3 separate regions of the Homo sapiens genome follow, and regions 2 and 3 are each linked to region 1. Evidence: fine-mapped expression QTL. A gene starts in region 1. Each other region holds a variant in brackets. All regions are shown on one strand. Distances are from middle to middle. Region 1 holds the start of FBXO2 (F-box protein 2). Region 2 overlaps DRAXIN (dorsal inhibitory axon guidance protein). Region 3 holds the start of AGTRAP (angiotensin II receptor associated protein).

Region 1 (8,000 bases):
CTTCCTCCCCACTCCTCTGCCTGCATCTTGGCGGCTGCCCTCAAGCCCTGTGCTGTGGGACGCTGCAGATCACAGTGCCCACCGCGTATTAGGTGCTTCCTGTGTTGCAGGCACAGGGAGGTGACTTCCCTGGGGGCCCTGAGACACATGGTGATGGAAATGACCAGACCTCTTCTGTGATGGAGAACGCTCTGATGTGGGCCAGACAGACCTGGGTCTAGTCCCAGCTCTACCAGTACTCGGTTGTCTGACCTTGGACCAGTTGCTTTTCCTCTCTGACCCTTGGTCGTCTCCTCTGTAAACTGGAGTAAGAATAGGGGCTGAGAAGCATTTTTGGCAAAGTGCCAAAATGTTTTAGGACTTGTGGCCCACATACTATCTCTATTGTATAGTTTTTTTGTTGTTGTTTCTTTTCCTATAACCCCTTAAAAACACAAATCTTTTTTTTTGTTTTTGTTTTTTGAGATAGGGTTTCGCTCGTCACCCAGGCTGGAGTGCAATGGCTCGATCTCAGCTCACTGTAACCTCTGCCTCCTGGGTTCCAGTGATTCTCCTGCTTCAGCCTCCCGAGTAGCTGGGATTACAGGTGCATGCCACCACACCTGGTTAATGTTTGTATTTTTTTGTAGAGATGGTGTTTCGCCATGTTGGCCAAGCTGGTCTCGATCTCCTGACCTCAGATGATCCACCCACCTTGGCCTCCCAAAGTGCTGGGATTACAGGTGTGAGCCACTGCACCCAGCCCAGCTGCCTTCTGTGATGGACAAAGCTCTGATGTGGGCCAGACAGACCTGGGTCTAGTCCCAGCTCTACCAGTACTCAGCTGTGTGACCTCAGGCCAGTTGCTTTTCCTCTCTGAGCCTCAGTTGTCTCCTCTGTAAACTGGAGTTAAGAATAGGGGCTGGGAAGCTTTTTTGGCAAAGTGCGAAAATATTGTAGGAATTGTGGGCCATAAACTATCTCTATTGTATAGTTTTTTGTTGTTTCTTCTTCTTCTTTTTATAACACTTTAAAAATGTAAAAACAATTATTAGAACAATTATTAATGCCTCAGCCAGATTTGGCTCATGCACAGCTTGGAGGAGTGGTTTTATTATCATTTTGCTCCAGAATTTGGTCATGTTGTGGAAAATGAGGTTCCCATGCCATCCCAGTGTCAACCCAACAACACAGCAAGCAAGGATCAGTGGAAGCCTTGCTTTACCTGTTGTTGTAACATACTGAGAAGACGACTGGATCTCCCATTCTTCCACAAGCAAAACCCCTTTGGCCTTCTGGGACCATGTCAGTAGGCCCAACCCTGGAGCCTAGAAACTAGGCCAACAAAATATGGCTCTGACTTCCTGGCCTTGTGTCTTGAGCAGAATTAGTCTCAGTTGGCCAACATTCCCTCGCCTAGGAAAGGTCACTGGGGAAATAATCTTAAGAGCAGAATAAGAGGCCGGGCGCGGTGGCTCATGCGTGTAATCCCAGCACTTTGGGAGGCCAAGGCGGGCAGATCACCTGAGGCCAGGAGTTTGAGACCAGCCTGGCCAACATGGTGAAACTGTGTCTCTATTAAAAATACAAAAAATTAGCTGGGCGTGGTGGCGGGCACCGGTAATCCCAGCTACTCGGGAGGCTGAGGCAGGAGAATCGCTTGAACCCAGGAGGTGGAGGTTGCAGTGAGCCGAGATCGCACCATTGCACTCCAGCTTGGGCAACAGAGCGAGACTCCATCTAAAAAAAAAAAAAAAATTAGCCAGGTGTGGTGGCACATGCCTGTAATCCCAGCTACTTGGGAGGCTGAACTTGGGAGGTGGAGGTTACAGTGAGCCAAGATTGTGTCACTGTACTCCAGCCTGGGTGACAGAGTGAAACTCCGTCTCAAAAAAAAAAAAAAAAAAAAAAGAGTATAGTAAGAATAAGAAACACCACTCTTGGCCTCAGTTTGCCCATCTGAAAAATGTGTGCACTAACAGTAGCTACCTCTTTGGGTTACTGTGAGAGAAGTAAAGGTGTTAAACCATCCAAAGTACCCGGCTCATACTAAGTGCTCAATACATGTTCCTGGTGTCATGACTGTGTACTGGAGGCATGCCAGACCCGGCCTGTACCCCACCTTCAGCGCACGGGTTGTGCAGGAGGTTCCTGTGCAGGCTCCGTAAGAAGTAGAAGATCTTCCAGTCGGCCACGGGCTGGTCCCAGTCCTCAGTGATGAAGCCCTCTCGCAGGCACTTGCGTTTCCAGAGGGTCACGAGGTCGATGAGGTCCCGCCAGAGGCTGCAGACCAGGCGGCAGTTCAGCAGCAGCTGGCGGGCGGGCACGTGCGTGAACAGCTCCAGCAGGATGTTCTCGGGCAGCTCGTTGATGTTCCCCACAGCCATGGCTTGTGGCTTCTGGACACCCTCCTGTAGCTGTTGAAAAGCTATGCTGCAGGCCTCATCCCTGCTCTGCCATTTATCTCGGGAGAGCATGGTGCCTCTCCCAGCCTGTTTCCTTCTCTGTAAATGGATGCCTTACCTCCAGGGGTCACTGGGGCGGTCCAAGGAGCTTGGGACACATCAGGTACTTTAATAAAAGGTGAGCTCTGATTTTTTTCTCTGGCCTCTCACAATAGAGGTGGAAGGCACTGCCCAAGGTCAAAAATAAGGGCAGAGGGGGAAGAAGCCCGGATCTTCTTTGATTCCAGGGCCAGCCTTTTTCAGTAGGCCAGTCTTTAATGGGGATATAATGCGCAGCCGGGCAGAGCACCCCAGGCCTCCGGTGCCGTCACCATCCTCTCTCCCATCCTCAGAACATGATGGGAGGAGGAGGCTAATTATCACTGCCTCCCGCGGAGGTCCAAAGGGCTCCAGCCACCTTCTCAAGATCTCAGAGGACATGATCTCCTGCCTAGGTGGGAGTGGCAAGAGGGTGGGCGACAGGGAAGGGCCCTTCCTATCTCCCCACCCCCACTCCCACCCCCAGCCCCGCGGCTGGGCTCCGCCAGCCCCAAGTCCGCCAGCGCGCCTGCAGCCTCCCCTTCCCACGCTGTGCCTTAAAATGCCCCCCAAAGTCTGGGCTCGGACCCCTGTACATCGATGGCGACCCCAGCCCCCGTTCGCAGCCGCGCAGCGCAGCCCGGGCAAGCTCGGCGGCCTGGGCCTGGTCGGTGCCAGGCCTCCCTCGGCAACTGCGGCGCGACCCGGAACCCAGGAGCCTTCCCGGCAGCCCCCGCCCAGCCGCGCCCCCTCCCCAGCGCCCCCCGCGCCCCCTCCTGCCGGTCACCTGCGCTCGGCCGCCGCGGCACGATCCGTTGGGCCGCCCAAGCTGCACCGCCTGGACCTGCGCTTGCCTGGAAAGCGAGGCCCCGCCCCGGCCCGCCAGGCCCCGCCCCCGCGCCCCGCGCCCCGCCCCGCGCAGCGCTGGGCCAGGGACGCACCCCCACCGCGTCGTAGGAAAATTACCTGGTGTGGGGGGTGGGGCGGAAGGCACCTCCTATACTCCGACTCCGCCTGGGCCACCCGCCCCTCACCCTCGGCCTGACCCAGCCTCTCCGTGCCTCCCCTAGCCGCCTCCTCCCAGCAGTCCCCCAGGAGCGAGCTGCGAGATGCCCCAAATCGGACCCCTCCCCAGTTGGAAAAAAAACGACTCCTGACCTTTCCCAGCCTCCTCGGTCCGCTGAGGAACCCGCAGCCCCGGGCCTCGAGCAGACTGCTGGGACTGCGGGGCGGCCGGGCGCGGGGCCAGAGGCGGGGCGGGGCGGGTCGGGTCGGGGGCCTTTAAGAGGCGCGGTCGCCGGGACCGACACAGACGCGGACAGCGCCGGGACTCGCCGCCCCGGGACTCGCGCAGCCCGCAGCGCTCCGGCTCCTCCTCTCGCGACCGCCCTCCGCAGCGATGGACGGAGACGGTGACCCAGGTAGCCGACGCCTGGACCGCTCGCTGCGGCGGGGAGGGGAGATGGGGTCGGCGGGCGAGCGCTGCACAGAGGGGCGTCAGAGAGCGAGGGGACCCGGAGACCTGGCGCGGCAAACTTTCACGCCAGCGAAGCCCTAGAGGCGGTCTCCAAAGAGCACGTCTCTCTGCTATCTTGGTCTGGCGGGAGGCCTTGAGAGGCGACTGGCAAGGAGAGAGAACTCCTGGGTCCCATTTAGCCAGGAAGTAGCACCAGAGGACCCCCACATTCCCGCCTCCCAGCTTCCTGAGGGTCTGTCTGGCGGGGGCCTGGGATGCGTCTGGGAGGGAGGCTGCGAGCCTTTTCTTTCATCAGCTCTTCCAGCTCTGGGCCTTGGGCCGTCTGAATCCCCGTGGGTTCCTTGGGGTCCCAGGCCTGGCCTCACCTATTCCTGCCTTCCTCCTGAGCTCCCTTGTCTGGAGGGGCTGCCCCTCCCCGGGGTGGTGAGATGCCCAGTGGGGACCCGACTAGCGGTGAGGGAGCGTTGGGGGCAGCTTTGGCTGGTGCTCAGGGCCTTCCCAGGCTGCCCAGTCATCCTCTCTGGCACCCAAGACCCCTCACCCCCATCCCTCCAACTCCCTGCGGGGCCTGCAGGGGTTGCCTGCTGAGTCAGGATGGAAACAAGACCTGCCTGCAGACAGCCCTCACTCTTTCCTCATCAGGTCCAGCTGGGGATGGGCATTGCTTGGGTTAGGCGGTGGCAAACAGACTGATGAAAGCTCAGGCCCCCCCTCACCCCCCATTCCCCCGCCTCCAGCCCTGAAAATTCCAGCTCTCGCAGCCCTTGCTCCCAATCCACGGCCTTCTGGCCACACCCTCTGTAGGGCTCCAGAACTGGCTCCTGCTTTTTCCCAGGGATCAGCTATACCCTGGACTCTGGGGCCCACTCCAGGTGAGTGAGTCAGCCTCGCAGGCAGGCAGCTTCCAGGGGCCAGATAACTTTCCGCCGGCAACAATGTGGGGAGTTGTGTGTGTAAGAGAGAGGGTGGGGGGAGCTGTAATTGGATCTGGGGCCTCGAGTGCCAGGCCCCGGGGCCAGAAGAGGGGACTGGGTGAGGTGCACCTTTCGGGGAGCATCAGGTGTCCGATGGGGCCAGGGCCGGAGGGAGGGCTGGAGAGGTGAGGACACTGGGCCTAGCTCCCCAGAGAGCTGTGGGCATCTGCCTGGGCAGGTGATGTGACTTCAGGGCCTGGCATTTTCCTCTGTCTTCCTGCCGTTCTGCGATGTGGTCTGGGAGAAGCTGTTAAGCCTTTTTTGGCCTCAGTTTCCTCTTTGCCAAAGGGGCCGGTGTAAATCCCCACATCATAAAGATGTGGCCAAAAAAATGTTAATAAGGAAGGAGAAGTGCTGTGTTCAATGAGGTTCACTCAGTAAGATTGACTGAGGACTCACTGTGTGCTCTGGGCTCTGTGAAAGCTCTCAAGGGCCTGACTGTGGGTTGGGCAGGGAGGAGAGGCTGCATATGAGGAGGTTAGGGGCTGGTGGGCCTGGAGACTTGGGTCTGGGTCCTGCCACCTGTCCCCTTCCCCAGTGCCTGGCCTGTTCCCACCACCGCCTTGGCTCTCCAGGGCCTAGCCCATGGGAACTCCCCATCCGTAGGTCTGAGAGCTGTAGTCTTCCTGATCACCCAGAGTGGCCCCGTCTCCTCCTCACTGGCTCTCCCTCGTCCAGGCATCTTGGGCACTCGGTGTCCACTTACTCAAGGCTGTGATGGCCCAGCTGAAGCCGACTGGGATGCAAGAGACAGTCCGGCTGCCGCGGTGACATCTGCCTGCCTCCTTACAATTCAGAATGCCCTTGTCCCCTTCCTCAGGGGATTTGGACGTCTGTCCTGTTTGTATGGCCTGGCACAATGATTACCCCCATTTTATAGATGAGAAAACTGAGGGCCACGGATGGGAAAAGGAGGTGGAGAAAGTTTCCTTCCCCAAGCCCCTATGTCATCTCCTTGCTTGATAGAGTTTCTTTTAATAAGTCCCTCCTCATCCCCAAGTCACACAATAGCTGGGGACAGCTGGGTCTCCAGGCTCTGTTCTCCAGCCCCTGAAGGCCCCAGGTCCCATGTCCCCTTCCCTAAATACTGGCAGTGTGTCCTTCAACAAGTCACTTCATCCCTGAGCCTGAGCATTTGCACCTGCAAAGTCAAAATCCTGGCCTGGGTGTAGTGGAGCATGACTGTAATCCCAGAACTTTAGGAGGCCGAGGCAGGAAGATTGCTTGAGTCCAGGAGTTGGAGGTCAGCCTGAGCAACAGAGTGAGACCCTATCTTTAAAAAGAAAAGTCAGCCGGGCGTGGTGGCTGACGCCTTTAATCCCAGCACTTTGGGAGGCTGAGGCGGGTGGATCACCTGAGGTCAGGAGTTTGAGACCAGCCATGCCAACATGGTGAAACCAGTCTCTACTAAAAATACAAAAATTAGCCAGGCGTGGTGGCACATGCCTGTCATCCCAGTACTTGGGAGGCTGAGGCAGAAGAATCGCTTCTCAGCTTCCAGCTACCCGGGAGGCAGAGGTTGCAGTGAGCTGAGATTGAGCAGTGACAGAGCAAGCGAGACTCCATATCAAAAAAAAAAAAAAAGTCAAAATCCTAACACTGCCTACTAATTCAGTGAATTATTCTGTGGAGGCTGTGGTGGTTTAAGATGGCTCTGGAGCCAGGCTGTCTGGGTTCAAATCCAGGCTCCAACCACTGATTAGCCGTGTGATCCTGGGCCGTTTCACCTCTCTGTGCCTCAGTTTCCTCATCAATGCAATAAGAACAGCAATAAGAGCAACCTCAAAGAAGTGGTATGAGGATTTAAAGAGTAAATGAAGTTGAAATGCTTTGGACGGTGCCTAACACTTGATGAGTGCCCCCAAAACATGAGTTCCTGACAACAGACCAGGAAAGTGCCAGATGCCAGGCACAGGGCATGAAGCTGTGTGTTTTCCAGACCATGTTCTGGCCCTTATAAGGCTCCGTATGGTCCAGAGACAGGCGTTTATCACAGGATCACACCCCAGGACAAAAGCTAGGAAGGGCTGTGAGAGGGTGTCATAGGGGGAAGTCCCGGAAGGCTTCCTGAGGAGGTGAGGGGAGCAGGAATCTCAGAGGGTGGTTGGGAGGAAGAAAGAAGTTCCTGTGTGAAGCACTGTGCAGTGCTATAGATGGATGCCATTAATAATAATAATATGATCCTTGTTGCCATCTGCCCAGGCGTGGGGTTTACTGGTCCAGCAGAGGAAATAGGCCTCTGAGGCACCTCTTTGGACTTAGGGGCTGATCCGGGGTTGGTCTGTGGCCTTGTGGCCCTCCTCCTTGGGCACCAGTATGGAGTCACAGAATCTCCGGCCCCAGCTGTGGATTGTCCCACGGTGGGTGGGGGAGGTTACGGGCACATTGCAGTCCTGGGGCCTGGAGGAGTACAGGGTGGAGGAATCACAGCCTCCCACCCATCCCTGCCTGCAGAGAGCGTGGGCCAGCCCGAGGAGGCAAGCCCGGAGGAGCAGCCAGAGGAGGCGAGTGCTGAGGAGGAGCGGCCGGAGGACCAGCAGGAGGAGGAGGCGGCGGCCGCCGCCGCGTACCTGGACGAGCTGCCCGAGCCGCTGCTGCTGCGCGTGCTGGCCGCACTGCCGGCCGCCGAGCTGGTGCAGGCCTGCCGCCTGGTGTGCCTGCGCTGGAAGGAGCTGGTGGACGGCGCCCCGCTGTGGCTGCTCAAGTGCCAGCAGGAGGGGCTGGTGCCCGAGGGCGGCGTGGAGGAGGAGCGCGACCACTGGCAGCAGTTCTACTTCCTGAGCAAGCGGCGCCGCAACCTTCTGCGTAACCCGTGTGGGGAAGGTGAGAGGCCCTCGCTGGGCGAGCTCAGCTTCCCCTGCTGCGAAATGGGCCGAAACGGCGCCGCCTGGCTTTGAGGGAGAAATGGGATTAAGCGCCTGGCTCAGTGCCAGCACTGGGTAGCCCCAAGGCTGTCTATTACTGTAGCTCTCTGGCCACCTGTGCCCTGGGGTCTCCCGGGTCCTCCCACCCTCAGCCAGCTGGGGCAGGGCGGGATGGGGGACATACCTCCCGGGAGGCAGATTTAGAAACTGCCCACTGGTCCAC
Region 2 (10,249 bases), 65 kb before region 1:
TGGTCACTCCTCAAGGGGCTGTGAAGCTGTCATTTTCCCACAAGCCTTGGCCCTCATGTCATTGCATGCTCAGCCTATTCCCAGCAGGCATGGAAACCACTCTTGGTGTCTCCAGACAAACTACGGAAAGGCAGCCCTGTGGGAACAGCAGGTATTCCTGGGATCCGCGGTGAGACTCCAGCTGGAGGAGTGCAGGAGGGTTCAGGCCACGGGCCCAGCAGCTACTGGTTGCCACCTGGCCTCCTGCTCAGCTCCCCCACTCCACCCAGGGTATCATTTTAGACTCCAGCACCCATTTTATTGCAAAGCCACTTACTCCTCCAGCCCTGCCTCGGTGCCTGGAATCTGCACATGCTGCCAAGGGCTGAGGCCAGAACAGTTTTCCAAACCTCTCTGACCATGGAACCGTACCCTGACCCTTTCTAATAGAGCATCTCATGGTCCCAGTGTTCTATGGAACACACTTTGGGGAAGGAGCTTGAATGGTGACTTAGAAATGATCTCAGAGTATGTGATGGGTCATTGTCAAAGAACCGACATCTAAAATTCTCCTAGAATAACAAATTAGCTAACACTGGAGGTTTATTAGGTGCTAGGCACTGTTCTAAACACCTTATAAGAATTCTGCGTTCACAGGCCAGGCATGCTGGCTCATGCCTGTAATCCCAGCACTTTGGGAGGCTGAGACGGGGGGATCACCTGAGGTCAGGAGTTTGAGACCAGCCTGGCCAACATGGTGAAACCCCATCTCTACTAAAAATACAAACAGTAACCGGGCGTGGTGATGCTTGCCTATAATCCCAGGTACGCGAGAGGCTGAGGCGGGAGAATCACTTGTACCCAGGAGGCAGAGGTCGCAGTGAGCCGAGATCGTGCCACTGCACTCCAGCCTGGGCAACAAGAGTGAAACTCTGTCTCAAAAGAAAAAAAAAAAAAAAGAAGTATGCATTCACTACTCACAACAACCCTATGAAGGGAGAGTTATTATTCCCATTTTACAGATGAAAAAATCAAGGCACAGAGACCTTAAGAAACTTTCCTAAGGTTGCCAAAGCTGTGAGAGGTGGAATAGGTGGATTTAACACCAGCCACACTGCTACAGATGGAAGGGGAGAGCAGAGACTCTCCGCCCCAGCTGCACCTGAAGTTACCTGGGAGAAAAACTATGAAGCCCAGACCAAACAAAACAGAAGCTTTGTGGGTGGGCCCCAGGCCTGTGAATGTTCCTGGATTATTGCAACGTGCAGCCAGCGTTGAGAGTGAGCAGGCTTGAGCAGGGGTTGGCAAACCGTGACCCTCAGGCCAAATCTGCCCCACTGCCTGGTTTTGCGCAGTTGGCAAGCAAAGAGCAGTTTTTGCACTTTTAAATGGTTTTAGAAAATTAAACTAATAATATTTTATGGCCAGGTGCGGTGGCTCACACCTGTAATCCCAGCATTTTGGGAGGCTGAGGCGGGCGGATCACCTGAGGTCAGAAGTTTGAGACCAGCCTGGCCAACATGGTAAAACCTTATCTCTACTAAAAATACAAAAATTAACCAGGTGTGGTGGCACATGCCTGTAGTCACAGCTACTTGGGAGGCTGAGGCAGGAGAATTGCTTGAACCTGGGATGAAGAGGTTGCAGTGAGCTGAGACTGAGCCACTGCATTCCAGCCTGGGCAGCAGAGCAAAACTCCATCTCCAAAAAAAAAAAAAAGGAAAGAGAGAATAATATTTTGTGACATGTGAAAAGTATACAGAATTCACATGTGTGTCCAGAAATAGTTTTCCTGGAGCATAGCCATGAATTCATTTACACACTCTCTGTGGCTGCTTCGAGCTACGGCAGAGCTGAGTAGCTGGTGGAGATCAGATGGCTTGCAAATCCTAAAATGTTTATTTGGCTCCTCACAGTAAAAGTTTGCTAAACCCTGGATTAGAGGAAACTGGCTTCTGTATGAGCAAAATAAATTTAAGATAGACCTAAGGAAGAACTTCCTGGCAGAGAGGTTGGTTAGACACTTGAGAGGGCTTTGGGATTCCCAGCTCTGGAGTTAAGAGGTTCCATCCACCCATCCCTCTTTGGAAATGTCAAATAGAGATAGCTAGGGCAAAGAGACGGGCCTTGAATTTCCAACCATGGAACTACCCTGGCAACCAGTGGCAGTTCTATGGGCATTTTAGCTTTGTCCTGACCCTCTGTGTTCTCCATGGCTGATGTCCTAGGACCATCTAACAGCTGTCCCCCAGCCATAGTAATGCTGGGCTTTCTTCCGGCGGTACTCCTTAGGGTTCTAGCCCCACAGAGCCAGCACAGTCCCGAGTCACCACTTAATGTGAGGCACACACAGCATGTGTGGGTTGTCTGGTCTCAAGTACGAAGCTGCTGGCAGATCTGCCTTTTTACATTTTTAAGTGTTTTATATTTTTGGAGTCTCACTCTGTCGCCCAGGCTGGAGTGCAATGGCGTGATCTTGGCTCACCGCAACCTCCGCCTCCTGGGTTCAAGTGATTCTCCCGCCTGAGCCTCCTGAGTAGCTGGGATTACAGGCACCTGCCACCATGCCTGGCTAATTTTTGTATTTTTAGTAGAGATGGGGTTTCACCATGTTGGTCAGGCTGTTCTCGAACGCCTTACTTCAAGTGATCTGCCTACCTCGGCCTCCCAGAGTGCTGGGATGTCAGACATGAGCCCTCGTGCCCAGCCTTAATTTTTGTATATTTGGTAGAGACCGGGTTTTGCCATGTTGGCCAGGCTGGTCTCAAACTCCTGACCTGAGGTGGTCCGCCCACCTCAGCCTCCCAAAGTGCTGGGATTACAGGCATGAGCCATTGTGTCTAGCCATATCTGCCTTTCAGCTAGCCTGCTTTGATCTCCCAGTTCCCCTGCCCTCCCTGCTCCCTCCCCACAAGGTTCCCATGCCCATCAAACTTGGATAGGGAGAGAACAAGCATATTTAATTTCTTCTAGATCTGCCTGCTTTCCTTGGTGCCTGACCCCTGACCCCGACTGATTTTTCCAACGCAGTAAACATCTCTGGCATCTTATGGGCGTGATCCAGGCCAGTGAGGAATTTGGCCAGGAAAGTCTTTTGTCATTTGCAACCTGGTTCGCCCTGGAACAGAGGGTTGGCCAGGAGTGAGATGCCAAGTGGGGGGATTTAAATGGTTCTCCTGAAGTGACCCCTGAAGCCAGATCTGCTGGGACAGATGTCCTGGGTGGGCATTGTGAGTCTGGCCTGTTAGGGGCAGTTAGCTTCAGATAGCACCTCAATTTCAGGTGAGCCTCAACTTCCCAGTGGGCTCTGCTGCAAAAATGTGGGGTGGGGTTCCAGGGATGGTTTTGTGGTCCTGGAAATCACTAAACAGTATGCAAAGTGGGTAAACATGGGCAATATGTGTGGGGTTTTTTTGGATTCCATGCTTGCATCAGAACCCCTGGGGGGGAAGTGCTCCAGAAAACTGTAAAGTGCCTGTCCAGGACTGGATGATCAGGACCACAGGGACATAAAGGCCAACATGATTCTTTTCCCCAAACACTTCTTATCCCAGGATATCAGCTACTAGACCACAGGGATCAACCTGCCCAACTTATTCCTGCAAGCAAGTATGTGCTTAAGTTGTATTTTGTTTTGTTTTTAAACATGATACACCTTTATCCAGGGAAGGCAGAGAACAGTCAAGTTATTCCAGCCACAGAGGAAGGGAATACCAGGGTGTGAGCCTCTCTTGCCAAAAGCCTTAGAGAATCTGGAAGAAATTCTTGGCTGTGGAGCAGCAAGAACGTGGGCCTTGGAGCTGGACAGCCTTGGCCCAGGTTCATGTCCTTGCTCTGCCATGTACTTCCCAGGACCTCTCAGTGGGTCCCTGGGCCAGCAGCCTCGCGTTCCCTGGGAGCTTGTTAGAGCACAGAGCCCACTGAGTCAGATGTGCTTTTTTTTTTTTTTTTTTTTGAGATGGAGTTTCACTCTTGTCCCCCAGGCTGGAGTGCAGTGGCACGATCTCTGCTCACTGCAACCTCTGCCTCCCAAGTTCAAGCGATTCTGGTGCCTCAGCCTCCGAGTAGCTGGGATTACAGGTGTGCACCACCGCGCCTGGCCTAATTTTTGTATTTTTAATAGAGACGGGGTTTCCCCATGTTGGCCAGGCTGGTCTCGAACTCCTGACCTCAGGTGAGCCACCCGCCTTGGCCTCCCAAAGTGCTGGGATTACAAGCGTGAGCCGCCGCGCCCGGCCAGATGTACATTTTTAACTGGACCTCCAGGTGACTCTTAGCATGTTCAGGTTTGAGGAGCACTGACCTGGGACCCTGGGCAAGTCGAGTCAAATAACTCCAGCGTGCCTCACGGTCCTCAACCTGTCGCATGGTGATAATGCCTACTTGAAAAGGTCGTTGTGATAATTCAATGAGATAATGTATTCCAGCACTTAGCACAGTGCCTGGTACATAGGAGATGTTCCATATTCATCTCCTGATGGTGGACCTTCTTTCGGGAAGTTTAAATTTCTTTTCCACTCTCAAAAACGCCTCTTGGTTTTGAACTTGAAGCTGTTGCAGTGCTGGAGTCGGACAGTAGAGGGCACTCTCGGCATTGCCATCGCGGAGAGCAAGACACGCGGGATGGAGGCTGCGTGGGTCCGGACTTCGTGTGTGCAGGTGCTGCGGGCCGGCTCCTGGGCACCCACCCAGCTCATTCGCCGAGCGGCTCCCCTCCTGGGGTTGAGTGTCCTGGGCCTGAGTCTGCAGCCTCAGCCATCTGTTCCCCAACTTGATCTCCCACTGCTAGTTACAAACAAATCGCCCGGCTTGTGCAAACCTCCTGGGCTCAGTCCCCAGTCCCGCGGGGCCGCTAGACGTTGATGAAGGATCCCTGGTCGCCGTTGGCCGTCTCGGGCTCCACACAGCGCCCTTTCCTCCGTGTAACCCTGCGGTTCCGGTGGAATTTGGCATAGCAGCGCAGCCCTGGGCGAGTGGAGGCAAGGGGGGTCAGAGGCGCGAAGGGCCCGTGCCCTCCCCTTCCTTCCCCTGCACGCTCGGGGCCAGCCAGCTCCCTCCTGCCTTCATTATTCTGCCCTACAACCCAGCTTCCTCACGGCAGCCCCA[A/G]TGAGCTTAAAAGACACGAACCCGGAAGAGGGGAGGAATGAACACGGAAGGAGAACAGAGAAGACTCAGGGCGGTCGGGGCGGTGAACATATTCTGTGTGACACGTAATGGTGGGACATGGCATGCATTTGTCAAAACCCACAGAATGCACCGCACAGTGAACTATAACTTACGTTGACTTCAGTTAGTAATAATAATACATCACTATTGGTTTGTCAAGCAACAAATGTACCAAGAGAGGCCGGGCACGGTGGCTCACGCCTATAATCCCAGCGCTTTGTAAGGCCGAGGCAGGTGGATCACTTGAGGTCAGGAGTTTGAGACCAGCCTGGCCAACATGGTGAAACCCCGTCTCTACTTAAAAAAATACAAAAACTACCCGGGCATGGTGGTGGGTGCCTGTAATCCCCGTTACTTGGGAGGCTGAGGCAGGAGAATCACATGAACCCGGGAGGTGGAGCTTGCAGTGAGCCAAGATCATGCCACTGCACTCCAGCTGGGGCGACAGAGCTAGACTCCCTCTCAGAAAACAAACAAACAAACAAACAAACAAACAAATCTACCACATGATTGCAAGATGTTATTAATAGGAGAAACTGCATGCAGGGGCAAAGCAGGTATATGAGAACCACATTCTGTGAAATTTTTCTAGAAAACTGCTCTAAAAATAAAGTCCACAGGGTACGGTGGCTCACACCCGTAATCCCAGCACTTTGAGAGGCTGAGGTGGGAGGATCGCTTGAGCCCAGTAGTTCCAGACCAGCCTAAGCAACATAGGGAGACCCTATCTCTACAAAAAATGTAAAAATTAGCCAGGCATTGTGGCATACACCTGTAGTCCCAACTATAGGAAGGAGGGGCTAACATGAGAGGATCCTTTGAGCCCAGGAGTTCCAGGCTGCAGTGCGCCTTGGTTGCACCACTGTAGTTCAGCCTGGGTAACAGAGTGAGACTCTGTCTCAAAAAAATTAAAAAATAAAATACACAGATAAATTCAATTAAAAAGTCTATAATCTTGAAAATTGGAAAGGAAAAAGGTTATTAAATTTTTTTTTAAGTGGCTCAAATTCTGCCCTTCCCTGTAAAACATCCTATGGAGAGCCATTGCTTTTTTTTTTTTTTTTTTTGAGATGGAGTTTTGCTCTTGTCACCCAGGCTGGAGTGCAGCGGCACCATCTTGGCTTATGAAACCTCTGCCTCCTGGGTTCAAGTGATTCTCCTGCCTCAGCCTCTCGAGTAGCTGGGATTACAGGCATGCGCCACCACACCCAGCTAATTTTGTATTTTTTTTTTTTTTTTTTAGCAGAGATGGGGTTTCACCATGTTGGCCAGGCTGGTCTTGAACTCCTGGCCTCAAGTGATCTGCCCACCTCCGCCTCCCAAAGTGATGGGATTACAGGCATGAGCCACCGTGCCGGGCCTCCCTTTTTTTTTTTTTTTTTGAGACAGGGTCTTGCTCTGTTGCCTGGACTGGAGTGCAGTGGCATGGCAAGATCTCGGCTCACTGCAATCTCTGCCTCCTGGGCTCAAGTGATCCTCCCCACTTCAGCCTCCCAAGTAGCTGGTACTATGGGTGTGCGCCACCACACCCGGCTAATTTTTTTTTTTTTTTTTGTATTTTTGGTAGAGACAGTGTCTCTCTACCTTGCCAAGGCTGGTCTCCAACTCCGGGCTCAAGGATCCACCTGCCTTGGCCTCCCAAAATGCTGGGATTACAGGCATGAACCACCCCGCCTGGCCTCCAATGCCCACTTCTGTCTACCCTTTCTTTTTTTTTTTTTGAGACGGAGTCTCTCTCTGTTGCCCAGGCTGGAGTGCAGAGGCACGATCTCAGCTCACTGCAACCTCCGCCTCCTGGTTTCAAGAGATTCTCCTGCCTCAGCCTCCTGAGTAGCTGGGATTACAGGTGCGCGTCACCACACCCGGCTAATTTTTGTATTTTTAGTAGAGATGGGATTTCACCATGTTGGTCAGGCTGGTCTCAAACTCCTGACCTCATGATCTGCCCGCCTTGGCCTCCCAAAGTGCTGAGATTACAGGCATGAACCACTCCCCTGGCCTCCAATGCCCACTTCTGTCTACCCTTTCTAAAACAACTGTAGGACTCATTATCATATTATTATCTTTATAGCCCTTATTACTTACTTTTTTTTTCTTTTTGAGACAGAGTCTCACTCAGTCACCCAGGCTGGAGTGCAATGGCAGGATCTCGGCTCACTGCAATCTCTGCCTCCCGGGTTCAAGCGATTCTCATGCCTCAGGCTCCCGAGTAGCTGGAATTACAGGCAAGTGCCACCATGCCCATCTAATTTTTGTATTTTTAGTAGAGACAGGGTTTCACCATGTTGGCCAGGCTGGTCTCACTCCTGACCTCAAGTGATCCTCCTGCCTCGGCCTCCCAAAGTGCTAGGATTACAGGCATGAGCCACCATGCTCGGCCATAGCCCTTATTATTTTCTAAAGACATACTATCTATGTATTTGATTGTTGTCTGCTCATATCACTAGAATGTAATTCATGGGCACAGAACTTGCTGGTTCTTTTCACTACTGAACCCCCCAGTGTCCAGAGCAATGTCTGATACGCAGTAGGTGCTCCCTAAATATTTAACTGATTAGATGAGTGAATAATCAGAACTACATAGCTTTATTGCCGAGGCGGGAGGATCCCTTGAGCCCGGGAGTTAAAGCTACAGAGAGCTGGGATTGCGCCACTGCACTCCAGCCTGGGTGACAGAGTGAAACCCTGTCTCAAAAAATAATTAAATTAAATTTAAAAGTCCACAATTTTAAAAATTGGGAAGAAAAAGATGTATTATCATCATTTTTAAGACAGGGTCTCGCTCCATCATCCAGGCCGGAGTGCAGTGGCACGATCATGGTAGATAACTCTCTGAGGCTAATATGAGCAAAACGGGGCATGTATCTCAGGTCCACAGAGGGGCTGAGCCCCAATTCCCCCATCCAGGAGATGTGTGAATGCTGATTTGATATTGGATGGAACTGATTAATTATCGTTCATGTTTGGCATTTTGTTTTTAAAAGAGTACTTGTCTTTCAGAGGTACACACTAAAATATTCACAGGTGAAATACCTGTAAGCTCCCAGGAGTTGCTTAGAAATCATGTCGGAATAAGGAAAGTGTGTGAGAGATGATAGACACAGATTGGCCGTGAGTTGGTATTGAAGCAGAGTGATGAGAAATGGGCGCTCATTAGACTATTCTAACTACTTTAGTATATATTTGAAACTTTGCAGAATACAAAATTGAAACTGGCTGGGTGTGGTGGCTCATGCCTGTAATCCCAGAACTTTGGGAGGCCAAGACAGGTGGATCGCTTGAGGTCAGGAGTTTGAAACCAGCCTAGGGAACATGGCAAAACTCTGCCTCTACCAGAAATACAAAAATTAGCTGGGCTGGTGGCATGCGCCTGTAGTCAGAGCTACCTGCAGGGCTGGGATGGGAGGATCACCTAAGCCTGGGAAGCAGAGGTTGCAGTGAGCCAAAACTGCACTGCTGCACTCCAGCCTGGGTGACAGAGTAAAACCTGTCAAAACAAAACAAAAACCTGAAACTATTCCCCCCACTTTCCTGGCTGTGTAAGTTTGGGCATCATTAAGCTTTCTGTGCCCCAGTTGGCTTATTTGTACAGTGCGGATCATCATAGCTCCTTTCTAGGGGTGGTCATGGGGATTTCAGTAGAAAAGTGCTCAGCACAGAGCCCAGCACACTTAGGCGAGGTGGGGGCACGGAGGAGTTGAAGAGGCAGCTGGGCAAGTGCATCCTTCCCTGGGACATGCTGGGAAACCCACCCCCACCCCATTATCACACTTCAATGCCTCCTCTGGGATAGAATTCTGGTGTGAAAGCGGCAGCCTTCTGAGGCTGGATCTAATTTAAAGAGATGTGCTCCTGTCTCCTCCCTTCTCCCTCTTCCAGATAGTGGGAGATTGTGCCAGCTTGTATTTCAAAAGTTGAGAAAAGCAAATCTCAGAAATGATGCCAAGAATCAGGACTAAATGAGTTCACAGATTGGGAAGGCACTGATAAAGCTGTTCTTGCTCACGTCTTCGGCTCCCGAGGGATTCTCCCACCTACACCCCCGCCGCAGGCCCATGATCCACCCTCTGCCAGGAAAGCTTGTTCCCCACTCGGTGCAGAAGCCGCTTCGAGAAAGGGAGGCTTTGTGGTTCTCAGAGCATGGGTAGCCCCCCGCAAAGGAGTCTGGACCCACCTTCCACACACATGCAGTCATCGAAGCATTTGTTGTTGAGGCCTCGGTTGTGGGGTGTGCAGAGATGCTCCCGCAGGTCGCAGCAAGTCCCTGCCAACACAGAGAGCACACGCAGTCAGCCAAGCTGAGCCGCCCCTCCCCGCAGCCCTGCACTCGGTCCCACTGGACAAGAGATCCATCATCTCTGTGGCAGGCCGCGCCCTGGCGGGGTGGGCCATCTGGTGTGCAAGGCTCCTGAGTGGAACCACAGGGAGATGTCATGGCCGAGGCCCCCAAGGGTCGGTGGCAGAGACCCCAGCTGCCTCAGATGGGGTACTGATTGACCATGGGAAGAGCGAAGGTGGTGTGAGGTCTCCTCCCAGACAGAGCCAGTAGAACAGCTGGGGGCTGCCAGGTGTGGAGTCAGCTCAGAGCTGGGAGGGGCCTCAGGATCCCCAAAACCAATGTCCTCTTTTGACAGATGGGGAAACTGAAGTCCTGGGCACCTGCCATGGAGCCGGCTCCCAGAGCGACTGTCCAGTCGGCCCAAATGCGGGCCTTTTCTTTGTGCCCAGGGTGAAAACAATGGTTTGGGAATGAAGCAGCCTGTCAGGGAGCTGGTGGTTTGCCTTATACAATGCTAATTGCTGGTTTGGTTGCTGTTTTGTAGAATATTCTGGTCACTGATCTAACAATCGTGGTGCCGTGGAGGTGTGCCGCTCCGATCTCTCTTGGGGAAAGCACTTGCTGGCGGCCTCCAGCTGGTACAGCTTCAGGGCCACCTTGGCCCATGGCAGGCTGTTCCCAGCAGCCCCTGCCAATGACGGGCATGGGGGTTCTGGGGCCCAGCCATTTCTGCTCAGCACGGGCCTCGTCTAACAGGCCACCTCTGTACTGGAGCGCCCATCCGGTGCATGATGTCTGAAGCTTCCTCCATGCTTCCTCCACCTT
Region 3 (9,700 bases), 77 kb before region 1:
GGGAAAATGCAAATGTCCCACTTCCTCCCGCAAAGGGGACCCTCCCCCCAGCCCGTCGCCACCTTCAGGTTCACAGCAGGCAGCTCCATCCCGACTCAGGCCGAGGGCACCTGCGCCGCAGCCGCGGGGGGCTCCTAGGCTCCGAACTCGGGGAACAAACTTGCCCGGCCCCGCCCCGCCCCGCCCGTTGCGGCCACTCCAACCCCAGCGCAGCTCAAGACCACGTGAAACGGGCTGGAGCGGGTCACGTGACCGCCGCTTGGTTGCTAGGAGACGGCGTCGGCAGCTCGCGCCTTCAGCCAAGCTCCAGACTCCCGCCACCGCCCAGGCAGTACTTGGGGGCCGCTGGCGAAAGTTGGAGTTTCTGTCGCCCAGGGCGTATCCTGCCTGGCTAATATTCCAGGAAGCGGACTGTTCGGACTGCCTGCAGCCAGGACAACTGGGGGACCGTCCAGGCGCAAAGTGCTGATGTGGCAACAGCTTGTGTCTCATCCTTGGGGGCACCCTCTCTCCTTCCCACTTCCCTGTGTAAATGGGCTATTTAGGCTACCTACCTCATATGATCCTTATGAGGATTAAATGAGCTAACTGCTGTTGTTAAAGAAAACGTTATTGGGACTGTTGTTAAACCAGTACTGTTCAAGACTTGCTGTAGGGTTATTGCCATGGAGTGAGAGTTTGGGCTCAACACCGAATACAACAAGGACCAAGGAGGGATTTATAGCCAGAGCAGAATGAGGGAGCAGGAATGGAAGATTCCTAGGAGGAGACATCAAGGATGGGGGAGTTCTTGCTAACTTAGCAGGACTCTTGCTGAAACTGGTTTATTATGCAGGCTCAGGCCCAGCAAGGACAGGAAGACACAGAGGTCCAAGGCCGAGGCCTAGTCAAGATGAGGACTCAGAGGAGTCTAACTACGGTTTGTTCTAGGAGAGAACAGTGCCCGGCACTTAGTAAATGGGCAGGACACACAAGCTATTGTTATTACCAACACAAGATGAGGCTGGGCGCAGTGGCTCACCCCTGTTATCCCAGCACTTTGGGAGGCCAAGGAGGGTGGATCACCTGAACTCAGTAGTTCGAGACCAGCCTGGCCAACATGGTGAAACCCCGTCTCTACTAAAAATACCAAAATTAGCAGGGCATGGTGGTGTGCACCTGCAGTCCCAGCTACTCAGGAGGCTGAGGCACGAGAATTGCTTGAACCGGGGAGGCTGCAGTGAGCCGAGATCACGCCACTACACTCCAGCCTGGACGACAGGGTGAGACCTTGTCTGGGAAAAACAAACAAACAAAAAGCAACACCTGAGGAGCCAAATTGGTGGGAGCCCACTTTAATCAGCATACCAAAAGTTTTAGAAAACTCTAGCTGAAAAACCATAAGAAATTCCTCCCCCAATTGTACATGAGGAAAGAAAGGGCTGTCTCCTGCCTCACCTGGCACCTCCCTTAAAGATTGTTGACCACCACATCCCCCCACCGCAACAAGAACATTAATCCGCTCTACCTCCAGGTCCCTTCCTAACATCAACTTTCCTTTAGAGAACACCAGCTTTTGTTTAGTGTCACCTAGGTATGGAAACCTTCAGGGTACACCTGAGCACTTGGTCTTATTCCTAGGGTGGGGGAAACCAGGTGGGAACCTACAAAACTGCCTGGGTGAGTCCTTAGATAATACCAAGACCCATAGTCTCTCCAGATGCAAAGAAAGGGTTTCTCTGGATGGATGAGGAGAGTTTTGCAGGGCTGCAGGGCCCATAGGCCTAACTTAATGCCCTCTTAGGAGGCACAGATCCCCCCAGTCTAGGGGTAAATTAGAGACCAGCCAAATGGCTACATCCAGTTTGATTTAGGACTGGTTGCTATTATTATTATTAGTTCATTATTGGTAATTAATTATTGTTATTAGTAAAGTACTTAGAAGAGAGTAATTTCTCAGTAAGCAGTCAATATTAGAATATTATGTTATTATTATCTTTTTTTTTTTTGAGATGGAGTCTGGCTCTGTCACCCAGGCTGGAGTGCAGTGGCGCGATCTCAGCTCACTGCAACCTCCGTCTCCCGGGTTTAAGTGATTCTCCTGCCTCAGCCTCCTGAGTGGCTGAGACTACAGGTGGGTGCCAACATGCCCGGCTGATTTTTGTATTTTTAGTAGCGATAGGGTTTTGCCACGTTGGCCAGGCTGGTCTCAAACTCCTGACCTCAGGTGATCTGCCCGCCTCGGCCTCCCAAAGTGCTGGGATTTCAGGCGTGAGCCACAGTGCGCAGCCTGATCAATTTCCTTCTAAAAAATATTTCCCATACACTCCAGATTCTAGAGGGATTTAATCCAAGCCTTTAGGTATATAATAAAGTTGTGATCACTTTGTAAGGAGAAAATGAAAAACAGGCCGGGCACGGTGGCTCAAGCCTGTAATCCTAACACTTTGGGAGGCTGAGGCCGGTGGATCACTTGAGGTCAGGAGTTCGAGATCATTTTGGCCAACATGATGAAACCCCGTCTCTACTAAAAATACAAAAATTAGCCAGGCATGGGGGTGTGCACCTGTGGTCCCAGCTACTTGGGAGGCTGAGGCAGGAGAATTGCTTGAACCTGGGAGGTGGAGGTTGGAGTGAGCCGAGATCCTGCCACTGCACTCTAGCCTGGGCAACAGAGTGAGATTCCATGTCAAAAAAAAAACAAAAAAACCGCAAAACAACTCCTAGGATTAGAGCTGACATTTACTAAACTGACATTTACAGGACCCTGTAGGGGCGGAAGGGTGTGATACCTTTCCTCACCCATCATAAAGGTCACAGCTGACACTCCTGTAAAAAAAGACTGCTTAACAAGAGAAAAGCATACCAAGTTTAGTTAAGCAAAGCTTCATGTGACATGGGAGGCTTCAGAGATGAAGACTCAAAGGCCCTGGGAAATCTGTCCATTTTTGTGCTTAGTTTCAAGGAAGAATGAACAGCCCTGTAGCAATGCAATTGGATAAAAAGAAAATGAACAAGTCTTGTCCAGATTCTTCTTGGGCTCTCCATGCAGCATTCCTTCCTCCTGGGTATGAGGTAGAACCCCTCTGTAATGAGGTCTTTAAAGAGAGAAGGGAGAGAGCCACCTTTCTAGGTTTTATGGCTACTTTGGAGACACGGGTTCTAGTTTCTGTGACCCACCTTGGAGAAGGAGGATTTTTTTTTTTTTTTTTCTTGAGACAAGGTCTTGCTCTGTTACCCAGGCTGGAGTGCAATGGTGTGATCATGGCTCACTGCAGCCTCAACCTCCTGGGCTCAGGTGATCCTCCCACTTCAGCCTCCTGAATAGCTGGGATTAGAAGCACCTACCACCATGACTGGCTAATTTTTGTATTTTTTTTTATAGAGACAGGGCTTGCCATGTTGCCCAGGCCGGTCTCAAACTCCTGGGCTCAAGCGATCCACCTGCCTCGGCCTCCCAAAGTGCTGGGATTACAGACTTGAGTCACCTCATCCCCTGCCAAAGGAGGAATTCTTGTTCTGTGACTGCCTCACGGGAGAAGGAGGGGCTGGAGACAGGAGGTCAGGAGGGCGTCACAGAGACCTTGCTTTTGAGGCCTCCAGTCTTCTGTAGTTCATAGTACTTAGCATGCCAAAGCACCAGATATTGGGGTGACATTTTCTGAGCCCCAACAGTAGTTGTCGTGTGGCAGACAGTGTGAAAGGGCTTCATAGTGGGCCAGGCACGGTGGCTCACATCTATAATCCCAGCACTTTGGGAGGCCAAGGCGGGTGGAACACCCGAGGTCAGGAGTTCGAGAACGGCCTGGCCAACATGGTGAAACCCTGTCTCTATTAAAAATACAAAAATTAGCCGGGCATGATGGCACATGCCTATAATCCCAGCTACTCGGGAGGCTGAGGCATGAGAATCGCTTGAACCCAGGAGGTAGAGATTGCAGTGAGCCGAGATCCTGCCATTGCACTCTAGCCTGAGAGACTGAGAGACGGAGCGAGACCCTGTCTCAAAAAAAAAAAAAAAAAAAAAGAAAGTTCTTCATAGTAAATGCTCACAACAGAACTATGGCACGCGCTGTTCTTATTCCTGTTTACACTTAGGCAACTGAAATCAACAGAAGTGAAGCCGCTTGCTGCAGGCACAGCACTAATTGCTGCTGGAACTGCGGTGGGACCCAGGAAGCCTGGCTCCAGGACCCTGACGTGTAACCACACAGCAGAAAAATCCGGCCAGGGCTGAAATGAGAAGGATAGAGTGAAGCAAGTAGGAGAAGACAAGGATCGGAAGGCAGCACAAGGCTGGGCCTGTGGAACGTCCCTGTGGCTCAGACACTGACACTGTATTCATCTCCACCAGCTGGGGCCAGAGGCGGAGGGAGGAGAGCACGAGAACACCCAGCTGGCTGGGCGGGCTTGGCAGGCTGGTGGGGTTGGGGGGATGCGGGGAGGTGGGAAGCACGGAGAAAC[AAAAG/G]AAAGTGAAACTGTCGGTATCCTCAAAGGAACCGGAGTTCCTGCCACGACCTATTCTTGGCTATGGAAGGACATAATAGACCCCCACGTGGCATTCCACAAGGCTTGGGGTCATGTATTGAGTGAGTACAGACACTCCCCAACTTACAATGGTCTGACATGATTTGTCTACTTTCCAACAGTGCGAAAGCGATCTGCGTTCAGTAGAAACCATATTTCCAGTCCCCAGTATAACCGTTCTGTTTTTCACTTGCAGTATAGTGTTCAATAAATTCCATAGGGTTTTCAGCACTTTATTATGAAATAGGCTTGTTTTTCATGATTTTGCACAACTGTAGGCTAATGTAAGTGTTCTGAGCATGTTTAAAGTAGGCTAGACTAAGCTATGATGTTCAGTAGGTTAGGTGTATTAAATGCATTTTATTTTCTTTTTTTGAGACAGGGCCCTCTAGGTGCTCTGTCACCCAGACTGGAGTACAGTGGTGCAACCTTGGCTCACTGCAGCCTCCAACTCCTGGGCTCAAGTGATCCTCCCATCTCAGCCTCCCAAGTAGCTGGTATTACAGGCTCACACCACCATGCCCAGCTAATTTTGCTTTTTTTTTTTTTCTTGAGATGAACTCTCACACTGTCGCCCGGGCTAGTGTGCAGTGGGGCGATCTTGGCTCGCTGCAGCCTGCACCTGCCGGGTTCAAGCAATTCTCCTGCCTCAACCTCCCAAGTAGCTGGGACTACAGCCATGTGCCACCACACCCGGCTAATTTTTGTATTTTTAGTAGAGACGGGGTTTTACTGTGTTGGCCAGGCTGGTCTCAAACTCCTGACCTCATGATCCACCTGCCTTGGCCTCCCAAGGTGCTGGGATTACAAGCGTGAGCCACCGTGCCCGGCCAGAGGGGACATTTGTTTCTGTGACTACTTAAAACTAATGAGGGCTGACTCTGAACGATTTGTCCCGATGGCACAGAATTCAATCTTACAGCGGCATCCCTTGCTGACACTTATGGACTCCAGCCAGCCTCCATAAATACTCCTTGAGCTTTAAAACACAGGAAATCATGCCTGATGTTCCGGCTGCTCTGCCACCTCATCAGGGTCCTATGAAAATTACTGCCGGTTAAGAATGATCCCCGCCAGGCCTTCCCAGACATGTGGCAATAGTGCCCTGTCCCTCCAGAGACCCTTGTGCTCAGAGAACCCATCAGAATGCCCTATGGAACCTTTGGTGATTGTAGAAAAGGCAGAAAAGGAAATTGCCTGTGCCCTGTTGGAGTCCAGGAAGCTGTGGCTGTGTTAGAAACCACCCAGAACACAAGCGGAAGTAAGAGGCTATTGCCCAAGAGGAAGGAGAGGCACTTCAGCTACTCTCAAATTCTGACCTATGGTATTTCCTTCAACCCCTGCTGCATACAGCAGCAATCCTCTTATTTTATTGTGTGCGTGTGCACGCACATGTGCAGGTGTGTGTGTGTGTGCATGTGTGTAGGTGTGCATGGGCATGTGCATGGGTGTGCATGTGCGGTGGTGTGTGTGTGTGCATGTGTGTAGGTGTGCATGGGCATGTGCATGGGTGTGCATGTGTGTGGGTGTGGGTGTCTGCATGTGCGGGTGCGTGTGTGTGCGTGTGCATGTATGTGTGGGTGCGTGTGTGTGTGTGCATGTGCATGCTCACGTGCTTTCCTCAACTCTGAGCATCTTGTTCAGAGATCAACTCCAGCCCCTGGCCCAGGCCCTGCACGGAGCGAGTTTCAATGTGTGCTGCTTGCCTCCCGCCTCCCATGGCCTGTCCTGGTTGTGTCATAACTTCAGGCTGCTTCCTCCTCCTCTCTTCGTTCTCCCATTTTTCCACGTGGATGCTGCTGGAATTCCAAGGGAGGCGTTGGAGGGCTCTGGCTGAATCTGAGTGATGGCTCAGATACACACATGAGGCCTGTTGTGGTCACTGAGCCCGACGGCCCGAGACGCCTATCTGCCATGGGGTTTATCTTTGGTGTTTGCTTTCACTGCTTTCAGGCCTCACTGGCGGTGGCTTTCACGTCTGACTCTGCTGCAGGCTCTTCGAGGTCTCATCTTCCTTGCAGGGGGCCAGTGGCCACAGGGAGAGAGAAGAGAAGAACGAGGAAGTGGGTGGGGGAGGGGAGGGTGCTTCCACTGGCTCTCTGGAAGGAATCCAGCCCTCTTCCTCTCTGGGAAGCCGGCCTGAAGGTGAATCCAACTTCGGTCCTGGCAGCCCCCTGCCTGACAGCGGCCTCGATGGGTCCTAAATGAGTGGCACAGTGCCTGTGAGGTGGGAGTAGGGGTGAGATCAGTGATCAGCTCCTAGTAGGTGCTCAGTAAACTTCAGGTATTTGAGAGGCAACACGGGGTCATGGACATGATCAGGTTTTGGAGTCAGGCAGACCTGGGGGAGGCCTCTCCAGCACCACTTTGGGCAAGTGGCCTTAATTCCTTTGTGCTTCCATTTTCATGCTTGGCAAAAGAAGGTCTAACAGTTCCCAGTTACGCAAGAGGAGGGGCGCCTCACGCCGTCAATGGAGGCCAGGGCTGTGTCTGGAGGAAGGTGTTCCCTCTGTACACAGGTATTCTGCTCTGTGCCAGGCGCTGACACAGGTCAAGGTCGGGATGCACAGTGCCAGTTCAAGACCACAGCATATAGCGCCGTCCAATTGTGCCCTTGCCGCAGTGCCTAATCGCCAGCAGGGACAGAGCCCAGGCTCCTGACTGTGGTTCCCCAGTGCAAACGTGTGAGTTTCAGGATATGCCATCGTGTGTTGGGGGAGGTGTGATGAAGGGACAGGGGCAGCTCTGTTTTGTCATTTGCTGACCCAGTCAGGCATCCATTCATATCGCTCCTCACCCGATCCCTCCCCACCCCATCCCACCCCAAATTGCAATTTCATGTCCTAACACTGGGTAGACACTGGTCTGGGCCCACCACAGCATGTGTGTCCATGTTCATGACCAGGGTTGGCCACCGCTACACTGAGGCTCAAGCTGCCAAACAGAGTGAGGAAGCCCAGAGCTTCATGACCCGCCACGGTCAACTCTGTCGCACGTCCAGTCACCGGGATCTGAGCTGGGGAGCTGAGCTCCAGAAAGCTCCATGATGGTCAATTTCGTGTGTCAGCTTGGGCAAGTTCTAGTATCCAAGGTTTCAGTCAAAAAAGAATGTAGGTGTGTGTGAGGGCATCTGCAGTCAGTTGGCTTGAAGGAAAGGAGGGTACCCCTGAGAATGTGGTGGGCCTCATCCTATCAGTTGAAGGCCTTAAGAACAAAAACTGAGGTCTTGGGAGAAGAAATTCAGCCTCAAGACTGCAGCATTAACTCCTGCCTGAGTTTCTGGCTTGCCTGCCTGTCCTACTAATTACAGACTTGCCAGCCCCTACAATCATGGGAGCCAATTCCATAAAATAAATCTCTTTATATACAGTCATGCATTGCTTAACAGCAGGAATACATTCTGAGAAATGTGTCATTAGACAATTTCATTGATGGGCAAACATCATAGCATTACACACTGCAAACATCATAGTGTGTACTCACACAAACCTAGATGGTGAAGCCTCCCACACACCTAGGCTCTCTGAGATAGCCTGTTGCTCCTGGGCCACAGACTTGCACAGTATGTTACTGTACTGAATACTGCAGACAACTGTGACACAATGATGAGTATTTGTGTATCTAAACATATCTAGACATAGAAAAGGTACAGTAAAAGTATGGTATTAGAATCTTATGGCATGGTGGCTCATTACAGGCATGGTGGCTCATGCCTGTAATCCCAGCACTTTGGGAGACTGAGGCAGAGGATCACTGAGGCCAGGAGTTTGAGACCAGCCTGGGCAACATAGCGAGACCCCGTCTCTACAAAAAATACAATAATTAACCAGGCTAATTACTGTATTTATAATACAATAATTATTATTGCATTAATAATACAAAACTTCGGAGGCCGAGGCAGGAGGATCATTTGAGCCCAGGAGTTTGAGGCTGCAATGAACCATGATTGTGCCACTAGACATAGTGTCATGACTGTGCGCAACCTAGACGTAAAGCCAGATTCTGTCTCAAAAACAAAACAAAACAATCTTATGAGACCACTGTTGTATGTGTGGTCTGTCATTGACTGAAATGTTTATATGGTACATGACTGTGTGTATACACACACACACACACACACACATGAGATATATAAATACATAGATATTTTAAGATATATAAATAATATCCAATTGTTTCTGTTTCTCTGGAGAACCCTGACTGATCCACCCCAGTGCAGCCATCTGCCCTCCACCAAGGGCTGCACCCAGGCTGCTGGCACTGAGAGCTGACATCCTGTGGCCTTGGGCTTGACTGCCCTAACCCCTTATCTCAGCACTGTTCTGACCTTTATTAGTAGAAATGGGATCCAGTGGACATCCCAGGACAGAGGGGTTTGGCTTTTAGATGGCCAGCATGCCTTTCTGTAACCTTTGACCCAGGGGTCAGTAGTACAGACTGGGGTCAGCAAGCTACAGCTCCTGGACCAAATCTGGCCCGCTACCCTTTTGTGTAAATAAAGTTTTATTGGAACGCTGCTGTGCTCACTCATTTGCATGCATCTGTTTCTGTGTGATCCATGGCTGCTTTCATACGACGATGGCAGAGTTGAGTAGTGGGCAGAGAGGGTATGACTTGCAAAGTCTCTTGGAGGGGTACAGGCCTTCTGGGCTCAGCTCCTCAGAACCATCCCCCGTGGGAGCTCCTCCAGCCACCTGGGGCTGTGTGGGGAGGACTGTGAGTTCTCAGAAGATTTGGTGCAGCAGCTCTCAGACTTGAGTTTCAGTTGTGCAGATTCCCAAGCCCATGCCTGGAATTCTGAGTCAGAGGCCCAGGTGGGGCTCAGAAACCTGGGCTTGCCGTCCACAGGATTCTGATGCTGGGGGTCCGAGGACCCATGTTTTAGGAAACCCTGGATTTGGGAAGCCTGATTTTCCCTGTCCTGGCTAGGCAGAGACGTCTCTGCAGATACGGACACCAGGCTCTCAGGGCGCCCCATCTCTGTGGTCACCACGGCCCCCAGGGGTGTCTGGGCCCCACCTTGGCTTTAGGATCAAGGTCACTGGGAGACATAACAGCCTGCCCGAGGAAGCCCTGGTCAGCAGAGCTGGGCGGCACTGGCTGGAACTGCCACCACGATAAGAGATGTCCTTCCTGGTGCCAAGCCAGGCCACCCCCTCACCAGTTCATGCCCTTTCCCAAGATGGCAACTGAC

Evidence for each region.
Region 2: its variant is fine-mapped to the expression of FBXO2 in blood mononuclear cells (TOPMed, PIP above 0.99). The same link has a PIP of 0.9 or more in NK cells and whole blood.
Region 3: its variant is fine-mapped to the expression of FBXO2 in aorta (GTEx, PIP 0.98).

The regions. Positions count from the first base shown.
Region 1 is chr1:11,650,202-11,658,201 of GRCh38, reverse strand. FBXO2 (F-box protein 2) reads left to right here and starts at 3,773. Exons shown (of 6, transcript NM_012168.6): 1 at 3,773-3,883; 2 at 7,368-7,736. The coding sequence starts at 3,862. FBXO44 (F-box protein 44) reads right to left here and starts at 3,325. Exons shown (of 6, transcript NM_033182.7): 1 at 3,250-3,325; 2 at 2,102-2,396. The coding sequence starts at 2,366. RefSeq lists enhancers at 1-225, 7,054-7,761, 7,762-8,000 and silencers at 3,094-3,163, 3,214-3,443, 3,684-3,823.
Region 2 is chr1:11,714,279-11,724,527 of GRCh38, reverse strand. DRAXIN (dorsal inhibitory axon guidance protein) reads right to left here. Exons shown (of 7, transcript NM_198545.4): 6 at 9,320-9,409; 7 at 1-4,944. The coding sequence ends at 4,832. Among named protein-coding and RNA genes, the nearest start is that of AGTRAP, 17 kb to the left of the region's middle. RefSeq lists an enhancer at 4,715-4,784. The variant A/G (reference allele first, on the strand shown) is at 5,086.
Region 3 is chr1:11,726,598-11,736,297 of GRCh38, reverse strand. AGTRAP (angiotensin II receptor associated protein) reads right to left here and starts at 162. Exons shown (of 5, transcript NM_020350.5): 1 at 63-162. The coding sequence starts at 89. RefSeq lists enhancers at 4,117-4,206, 9,099-9,700. The variant AAAAG/G (reference allele first, on the strand shown) is at 4,444.